Homo sapiens: one gene and its partner. The protein of the gene in region 2 purifies or fractionates together with the protein of the main gene of each other region. This does not show direct contact. Each region holds a gene or a part of one and is shown on either strand. Other genes may lie near its edges.

Evidence for each region. The genes of interacting proteins can lie anywhere in the genome.
Region 1: the proteins of ZNF484 (region 2) and ZYG11A purify together in Homo sapiens (affinity purification with mass spectrometry; one large-scale study listed by BioGRID and IntAct). This does not show direct contact.

What each region holds. Positions count from the first base shown.
Region 1 is NC_000001.11:52,858,684-52,863,259, reverse strand, and holds part of ZYG11A (protein zyg-11 homolog A), read right to left. Parts: intron 2,530-4,576; coding exon 2,389-2,529; intron 1-2,388. UniProt on the Homo sapiens protein: Probably acts as a target recruitment subunit in an E3 ubiquitin ligase complex ZYGA-CUL2-elongin BC.
Region 2 is NC_000009.12:92,852,825-92,858,476, reverse strand, and holds part of ZNF484 (zinc finger protein 484), read left to right. Parts: intron 1-2,158; coding exon 2,159-2,285; intron 2,286-2,573; coding exon 2,574-2,666; intron 2,667-4,518; coding exon of another isoform or gene 4,519-4,563; intron 4,564-5,652. UniProt on the Homo sapiens protein: May be involved in transcriptional regulation.

The DNA.
Region 1 (4,576 bases), on a different chromosome or scaffold from region 2:
ATGAGGGCATTGTTCCAAGCTTAGACCCCACCTGCTCTGTCATTCAAGGACACTGTGATCTGTTTCCTCTACTAGAGACAGACCTGGGATATACTTCTGCTATGGAAAATGACTTTTTTTTTGTATATTGCTAAATTGATTTTTCAGTTTCATTAGATTGCCATCATCTGCAATTTAGAAATCCAGAAACCAAAAGAAATGTGATTTTCACAAAAACTACACAATCCTGGTATGAAAAGAAATTTAGAACATCTAAATTCAGCCTAGGCAACACAGTAAGACCTCATCTTTACAGAAAAAACAAAAAAAACAGCCAGGCATGGTGGGGCATGCCTATAGTTCCAGCTACTCAGGAGGCTGAGGCAGGAGGATCACTTGAGCCCAGGAGGTCAAGGCTGCAGTTGGCTGAGATCATATCATGCCACTGCACTCCAGCCTGGGCAACAGAGTGAGACCCTGTCTCAAAGAACAACAAAAACAAACAAAAACAGAAGAACATCTAATTCAATCTCTTCCTTACAGATGGAAAAAAAGGTCGAGAATTTTTAATTTATTTTATTTTTTTGAGTTGGGATCTCGCTCTGTTACCCAGGCTGGAGTATAGTGGCACCATCATAGCTTACTGTAGCAGCCTCAAACTCCTGGGCTTGCCGGGCGCAGTGGCTCACGCCTGTAATCCCAGCACTTTGGGAGGCCAATGCGGGCGGATCACGAGGTCAGGAAATCGAGACCATCCTGGCTAACACGGTGAAACCCCATCTCTACTAAAAAATACAAAAAAGTAGCTGGGCGTGGTGACGGGCGCCTGTAGTCCCAGCTACTTGGGAGGCTGAGGCAGGAGAATGGTGTGAACCCGGGAGGTGGAGCCTGCAGTGAGCGGAGATCAAGCCACCGCACTCCAGCCTAGGCGACAGAGCGAGACGCCGTCTCAAAAAAAAAAAAAAACCAAAAAAAAATCCTGGGCTCACGTAGTCCTCCAATCTCAGTCACCCAAGTAGCTGGGACTATAGGCATGTACAACCATGCCCACCTAACTTTTTTTTTGTTTTTTGAGACAGAGTCTTGCTCTGTCGCCCAGGCTGGAGTGCAGTGGTATCATCTCGGCTCACTGCAACCTCCACCTCCCAGGTTCAAGTGATTCTCCTGCCTCAGCCTCCTGAGTAGCTGGGATTACAGGCACCTGCCACCACGCCTGGCTAATTTTTGTATTTTTAGTAGAGACGGGGTTCTACCATGTTGGCCAGGCTGTTCAAATTCCTGACCTCAGGTGATCTGTCCACCTCAGCCTCCCAAAAAGTGCTGGGATTACAGGCGTGAGCCATGGTGCCCAGCCAGAAGCTAATTTTTTTTCTTTTTCTAAATTTTTGTAGAGACAGGGTCTTACTAATGTTGATCAGGCTAGTCTTGAACTCCTGGCCCCAGGAAATCCTCCCATCTCGGCCTCCCAACCAAAGTGGTGGGATTACAGGCATGAGCCACCACAGCTGACCCAGAGTTTTTCTTTATACAGCTTTTGAGCTGTAAATAAAGTTAATCTCCCATGCTGTAAAAATATTTTTTTTTGAGTCTCGCTCTGTCACCAGGAGGGAGTGCAATGGCACAATCTCGGCTCACTGCAACCTCCACCTCCCGAGTTCCAGCGATTCTCCTGCCTCAGTCTCCCAAGTAGCTGGGACTATAGGAGTGCGCCACCACGCCCACCAAATTTTTGTATTGTTTTTAGTGGAGACGGGGTTTCACCATGTTGGCCAGGATGGTCTCAATCTCTTGACCTCGTGATCCACCCGCTTCGGCCTCCCAAAGTGCTGGGAAAATATCCACATTTTTAAGGAATTGCAAAAAATTACAAATAAAGACAAGGTTTTTCTTAAGACCTTTCATTGTTATGTTTCACTAAAAACAACAATTTTCAAATAAACACATGTATAAAAGAAAAATAAATAACTGAAGTTTTCTTTCCCAAGCCTCTTAATACTTGTAATTACATTTACAATAAAACGCATCCTTCCCTAAACCAAAGCTAAGTTTGGCTATATCGATAAAAGCAACTTTATGTCATTCACAAAATACTTCAAGTGGTAGATTTGGCCACCCTTAATTATTTTTATTTTGTTCTGCACTTGTTTTCTTTCAGAAAGCCACATGATCCTATTATTCCCTTACTTAGACCAAATTTTAACTGTTTTGATTCTAATTTATTCCACATAAATCCAGATGCTCAAAGCAAAAGACACTTTGGCAGCTAAGCTTAACATTCTTTGCTCTATGAGAGCACTTGACTCACTATAGAATAAAGCATATAATTTATTATATTCAGTGTGGTTCGTGAACAATTATTAATTGAACCAAGTTAAGAAGTAATAGTAAAAATTGTCTTCCTTCAATTACCTTTAAAATAGCAGGCATGGTTACCTCCATTGAAAATGTCTCTGTGAACAGCCTGTGGAGGGCTTCCTTCACAAAACATGATCTGTTCCTGTATCGGCTCAGTGCTTCTGAAATCTGACTCATACTGGCTCCTCCAGCAACCTGAAAATAAAGATGTTACCAAACAGGTTTCACCATTCATATTTTTTCACCATTCATTTTTAACCACAGGGTTTTTGGGGCATCCAGTGTTTAAGACAATAACAACAAATGTTCAATTAAATGTTCCAGGTGTTGGCCAGGCGCAGTGGCTCACGCCTGTAATCCCAGCACTTTGTGAGGCTGAGGCAGGTGAATCACCCGAGGTCAGGAGTAGAGACCAGCCTGAACAATATGGTGAAACCCCATCTCTACTAAAATTACAAAAATTAGCCAGGCGTGGTGGCAGGCGCCTGTAGTCCCAGCTACATGACAAAATATGCTGAGAGAAAGTAAAGATCTAAATAAATGCAGAGATATACAGGATTCAAGAATCAGGAGACTAGCGCCAGGCGTGGTGGCTAATGCCTGTAATCCCAACACTTTGGGAGTCTGAGGCTCAAGGGTTGCTTGAGCCCAGGACTACGAGACCAGCCTGGACAACATAGTGAGACCTCGCCTCTATTTTTTAAAACAACATGAGACTCAACGTTATTAAACGGCAATTTTCCTCAAACTGACCTACAGATTTAATGCAATCCCAACTAAAATACCAGTAGTCCTTTTTGTAGATATTGACAAGTTGCTTTTATGATTTATATGGAAATACAAAGAACCTAGAATAACCAAAACAATTATGAAACAGAATAACAGTTGAAGAAGTCACATTACCCAATTTCAAGACTTCATATAAAGTTATAGTAATCAAGACAGTAGGCCGGGGCACAATGGCTCAGGCCTGTAATCCCAATACTTTGGGAGGCCAAAGTGGGCAGATCACCTGAGGTCAGGAGTTCAAGACCAGCCTGGCCAACATGGTAAATCCTCATCTCTACTAAAAGTACAAAAATTAGATGGGCGTGGTGGTGCACGCCTATAGTCCCAGCTACTAGGGAGGCTGAGCCAGGAGAATCACTTGAACCCGGGAGGCAGAGGTTGCAGTGAGCCGAGATCACACCACTGCACTCCAGCCTGGGTGACAGACCGAGACTCTGTCTCAAAAAAAAAAAAAAAAAAAAAAAAAAAAGGCAATACACAAACAGATAAAAATAAAGAGCCCAGCTGGGCGTGGTGGCTCACACCTGTAATCCTAGCACTTTGGAAGGATGAGGCAGGCAGATCACGAGGTCAGGAGATCGAGACTATCCTGGCTAACACGGTGAAACACCATCTCTACTAAAAATACAAAAAATTAGCCAGGCGTGGTGGTGGGTGCCTATAGTCCCAGCTACTCTGGAGCCTGAGGCAGGAGAATGGCGTGAACCCGGGAGGCGGAGATTGCAGTGAGCAGAGATCGTGTCACTGCACTCCAGCCTGGGCGACAGAGCAAGACTCCGTCTCAAAAAAAATAAAAAATAAAGAGCCCAGTAACAGACTCACACATATACGGACACCCGATTTTCAACAAAGATGCCAAGTTTATCCAAGGGGGGAAGAGATAATCCTTGGTGGTGAGCCAAGATCGGACCACTGCACTCCAGCCTGGGCGACAGAGCAGGACTCGACTGTCCCAAAAAAAATTTGGGGATCTCAGCTCACAGCAGAGGTTGCAGTGAGCCAAGATTGTGCCACTGCACTCCATCCTGAACAACAGAGTGACTCTGTCTCAATAAAAAATTAATTAATTAATTAATTAAAATACAACAATTGCTAACTTCAAATCAAAAGAATAAAATGTTAACACAACTAATGAGTATACAAATCACTTTATTCTCTTCCCCTAGGAAGAACTAAGGAGGTATTATTATAAAGAAAGAGTTACTTTAAAACAACAGCTCTGGGCCAAGCATGGTGGCTCATGCCTGTAATCCCAGCACTTTGGGAGCCCAAGGCAGGTGGATCACCTGAGGTCTGGGAGTTCGAGACCAGCCTGACCAACATAGTGAAACTCTGCCTCTACTAAAAATACAAAAAATTAGCCAGGTGTGGTGGTGCACACCTGTAATCCCAGCTATTCGGGAAGCTGAGGCAGGAGAATCGCTTGAACCCGGGAGGCGAAGGTTGCAGTGAG
Region 2 (5,652 bases):
ATAGCCATTACTTCTTCAAATATTGCTTTTTCCCTGCACTCTCCTCTTTAACTTCTCAGACTCTGATAGGTTATACCTTTTTTACTATGTCACACATATTCCTAATGCTCCTATGTTTTTTTCTTTAAAAAAAAAATCTCTGCTTCAGTTTGGATATTTTCTATTTACTTGTCTTCCATTTCAGAAATTCTGTATTTTGCTGTTAAACCTGCATAAGGACTTCTTAATTTTAGATTTTAGATTTTTCAATTTTTGAACTTTCATTTGATTCTTTATTATAAGAACCAACTCTCTAAAGATAGTCCTCTTTTCATCTAACTCCAATTCTCTGTGTGACTGTTTCTATTGAATTTTTTCCTTCTCTGATTTTGGATATGTGGTCCTATCTTTTTGGATGTGTAGGATTTTTTTGTTTGTTTTAAACACTGTGTATAATAAGTTGTAGGCAGGGCTCATACCTGGGAGGCTGAGGGGGACAGATCACTTGAGCTCAGGAGTCCCAGACCAGCCTGGGCAACATGGCAAAACCCATCTCTACAAAAGATAGACAAATTAGCTGGGCATGGTAGCATGTGCCTGTAGTCCCAGCTACTTGTGGGGCTGAGACAGGAGGATTGCTTGAGCCCAGGTCGAGGCTGCAGTGAGTCGTGTTTGTGCCACTGCACTCCAGCCTGGATGACAGAGCAAGACCCTGTCTCAGAAGAAAAGAAAAAAAAAATCTTTCTCCACAGAGGATTCATCTTTCCTTATGTTAGCAAATGGAGGGAAGGGAGAACACGTACATCCAGTCAGGCACTGTTGATGTTGAAATAAGGCCGGGTTGAAGCTCTGCTAAGACTCACTTTACCTCTGGATCACCCTGGCTCCTGAGAATTTTCAGCTGAGAGCCCTTTTGTCCTCTAAAGACCCTCTTCCTGATAGATGCCCAACTATTTTCTTAACAGATACTAGACTTTTGCTCTGTTCTTCAAAGGCTGTTTGCTTACATTTTTAGTCTACTGCCCTATATACCCTAGAATTCAGCAAATATCCTGAGGGGAAAATGGCCATGTGTTTGAGTTATGTTGGTTTCTCTGTCACCCAGCTGCAGCCTTCTACTGCATTCTCCAGTAGACAGGACAAAATGAGAATCCAGGACAAAAGCTGGATTCTCAGCTTTTGTCCACAGCCAGAATTGGTAAATGCTCCCACTGTCAGAGTGACTGAATAAGTCAGCTTCAATCTTTAATATTCTCTCCTCTCCAGTCTTAGCCCCTATATTTCTTGCTACCTCAGCAGCTTTCCAGTGCTTTGAAACAGATGATTTCAAGTATTGCGTCTGGCATTTACAGTTCATTGTTGAAGGAAGCACTGGACTGCCAAGCTACTGCATCTCATCTGGAAATGGCAGTGCTGAAAAAGAGCCCTCTCCTTCATACACCACACAGTTTACCATTTAAAGTGTACCATATTAGGCTGGGTGTCGTGGCTCATGCCTGTAATCCCAGCACTTTGGGAGGCTGAGGCGGGCGGATCACGAGGTCAGGAGATCGAGACCATCCTGGCTAACACGGTGAAACCCCGTCTCTACTAAAAAAATTTTTAAAAATTAGCTGGGCGTGGTGGCGGGCGCCTGTAGTCCCAGCTACTCAGGAGGCTGAGGCAGGAGAATGGCGTGAACCCAGGAGGCAGAGCTTGCGGTGAGTGGAGATCGAGCCACTGCACTCCAGCCTGGGCGACTGAGCGAGACTCTGTCTCAAAAAAAAAGTGTACCATGTATTGATTTTTAGTGTATTCACTCAGTTGTACAGCCATCATTATAATCAATTTTAGACATTTTCTTTATCATCCAGATGGGTGTGAGGTAATATCTTGTAGTTTTAATTTGCATTTCCCTAGTGATTAATGACGTTGAGCATCTTTACATGTGCTTGTTAAATATTTGTATATCTTCCTTGCAGAAATGTCTATTTAAGCTTTTTACCCATTTTTAAAATTATTTTGTTCGTTGTCGTTGAATTGTAGAAGTTCTTTATAGTATATTGTATCACATTAAAAATAAGGTCCTATCTTGTTTCCATTCTGTAATCTCGATCCTTCACATTGAAAGGTTTTTTTTTTTGAATTCAAATATATTCTTTAAAAAATTATTTTAAAGTTTGTTTTTTTTTTTTAACAGGAATCAGTGTCATTCAAGGACGTAACTGTAGACTTCAGTAGGGATGAGTGGCAACAATTAGACCTTGCTCAGAAAAGCCTGTACAGAGAAGTGATGCTGGAAAACTATTTCAACTTGATCTCAGTGGGTAAGCACGGCTCTGCTGGGTATAGAGTAGGCTGCACCTAATTGAGTATATTTTTCTTCTCAGTAGAATTGCTGAAGTCTGTGTTTTCTGAGGTATGTGGGACTTCTAAAGACTGCAGGACATCTAAAGTGTGTAATGGTTTTGTCCTTATTTTGTCCCATGTTCTTAATAATCTCTTTCGGGTAGTGTGAATATTCCTCTGTTCCCAGTGAACTTTTTTGGGAAAAAAATGGAATGCTTCATTGTATGGCCTCTGAAATCAAGTCCTCTATCATCCCCTGTTAACAGGATGTCAAGTTCCCAAACCAGAAGTCATCTTCAGCTTGGAACAAGAAGAGCCATGTATGTTGGATGGTGAGATCCCCAGTCAGAGCCGTCCAGGTGAGAAGGGAACCAAGAGCATGGTAGACAGTATGACTCAGCTGCATTTGTACTGGGAGAAGCTGTGCCCAACTTTGCCCAACTTTGATGTGTCATTAATAATGACTTTTAGAACTGCTTGGAAGAGCAGTTATTAGACAAGGACCCTTGGATAGCTAAATGCTAACCCCACTTAAGATCCCTTCTCATATCAATGCCTTCTTCTTTGCTTGGCTTTTTAGGAGGGAATATGCTACAATTACTGGTTCTTTGGATCATGTCACACTCTACTTTCTAGGGTCCTGTTTTCTTGCTTTTTTCTCTCTTTCCCTAGAAAAGTTTTATTCTTTCTACCTCCATCAAGGTCTTAGATCATTTCCTTATGCATTCAAATACTCATAGATCTACCTTCTGAAAACATTACTATGCATTACAACTTCAGCTCCTGCTGTTTCTTCTCATTTTGTCTCTTTCCCCTTAGTGCCTCACAATTGTCATCTAGAGATGGGCTTGTCTGAAGTCCCCCCATGCCTCTTCTCTGATTGTTGACTTTGAGAGTACCATTGACATTTTCTTCCTACTTGGCTAGTGCAACGCAACACTGACTTGATCTTTCTAATTTATTTATTTTCATATCTTACACAAAGTTTTTTATCTAGTGTACAGGTATATCCTGTACAGAAGATTGAGTTAATAATTATAGCCTTAGTTTTTAGTCAATATCATCATCAATGTGTTTAAGGCTCCCCTCTTATTTATTCTTTTTAATCCTCAGTCTCCATACTCATTTTTATCCTTCCAAGAGGCAACTGTTCTAATATATTTGACATGTTATGCCATTTATCCTTGAATTTCTGGGATATTTATAAAATCTGAGTTGTTGGCATTGTTAATTTGTAGAAATGGTACTGTATTATATATCCTACTCAAGTTTTTTTTTCTCAAATTGGTCCATGTTGCAGTGCATTATTCTAATTTCTACATATCATTCTGTAGTGCACATATATACCCCATTTTACTTGTCCAGTTTTTCAGCTACTACAAACAGTACTGCAATACATTTCTTCATGAATTATTCTTACTGGAAATGATAATTTATTTATTTATTTTTTTCTGAGATGGAGTTTCGCTCTGTCCCCCAGGCTGGAGTGCAGTGGCATGATCTCAGCTCACTGCAAGCTCCACCTCCCAGGTTCACGCCATTCTCCTGCCTCAGCCTCCCCGGTAGCTGGGACTACAGGCGCCCGCCACTGCACCCAGCTAATTTTTTGTATGTTTAGTAGAGACGGGGTTTCACCATGTTAGCCAGGATGGTCTCGATCTCCTGACCTCGTGATCCACCCGCCTTGGACTCCCAAAGTGCTGAGATTATAGGCGGGAGCCACCACGCCCAGCCGGAAATGAGAATTTCTTAAGGAAGAGGAGTGGGATTGCTTTATCATTGGGCATACTAATATTGAATATGATGAGGTATAAGCACATTATTTTCCAGATTGGCTGTGTCACTCTACGGTCCCTGGAACTTTGTACAAGGGTATTAGTTCCCCACATCCCTACCCATACCTAGTATTATCCAAATTTTTAATATTTTGGCTAATCTGATGGGTTTTAATTTCTAATTATTATTTAATTTGTATTTCCCTAATAAAATACTTTGAACATCTCATTCTGTATCCTTCATTTTTGATGTTCAACTGCTGATGTTTTCTAAGCCTCATCTCTCTCTCTTTTTTTCCTGGACAAACTGAGAAAAAAGCCCATGAGTTCCCTCCATTGTTGCTGGGAAATTCCAACTACATAAGGGAATAGTTAGCCCAGCCCCACCCGCCCCTGCCATAAACTCCCAAGACAGTCCTTTCCTTGCTCACTCTAGCCCCATCTGGACCTGCTTGGAGCTGTCCCCAGAAAGCCTCATTATGTGAGTAACAAATCTTTTTACACCCTCTTATTGTGTGTGTCTCATCGTCACTCTTGACATCTGAACCAAGTTTGGGGTGGGGTCCATTTCTCCTTGCAGGTCATTTACAGCTGGGGCAATAAGCAGGATGTCAAGGCAATGACCACCCCCACAGGGGTCTTTCTCCTCTTCCCAACTGGTTATACTGCCTGCTGGCAAGTATGCACTTTGCCTCTGTCCTATACATAACTAACCTACATTAGAAGTTATCATGGACATTTAGAGGCAGGTGTAAGGGCTTTGGGCCCTCCTTAAAGTTGCCCAGGTCCATGTGTCTCAGCCCAGCATAATCTGTGTCTTAGATTATGTGTCTCAGCTGCAGCATAAGCTCTGAGTGATAATTGGCTCATGGGAACAACTTTTACTCTGTGACTGTTATTTGTGTGTCTCAGTCAGGCATTGGCCCTATTGTATACAGCACTCAGGGGAAAGACCAATACTGTTTGCATTTAAGGGTCTGGCTGTTTGTGTGAAGGAAGACAAGATACAATGTAGCATGTAAAAGCAGGTGGCTTGCCTTTCAAAATGTTGTCATCTTCTCTTGGAGTTTTTTTACTTTTCCCTCTAATCCATCTTCTCAGATAATTCATTCTGCTTTTCTACTTATTTTTCTCATTTACAAAAGCCTCTTTCTTACCTCCCAGTCATATCACCTACAACCATGTCTGTGTTTTCTCATGCCTAGATTATTCTAATCCTATTTGTATGTGATAATCCCATTCTTTCTTTTTCACTATTTCATCTCAGATGCTGCTGATAGATTTCACTACTTAAAACATTGTGTGCTGTGTTTATCCTGTCATAGCTACATGGAAGAAAACTAAAGTTACTACTTAATATCTAACATGTGACAGATTCTCCTCTCAGTAGGTTTGTAAGCTAGAGAAAGAATATGGCCTCATATTTGCAATTCACATTTGTCCCTGTTTTCTATAACCATTTCTATCCTATTTTAAGATTTTCTTTAATTCTCCCTTTTCATCGAGCCCTTTGATTATTATGTTATCTATCTGCGTATTCAAATAATACACATATTTTGGCTGGGCACAG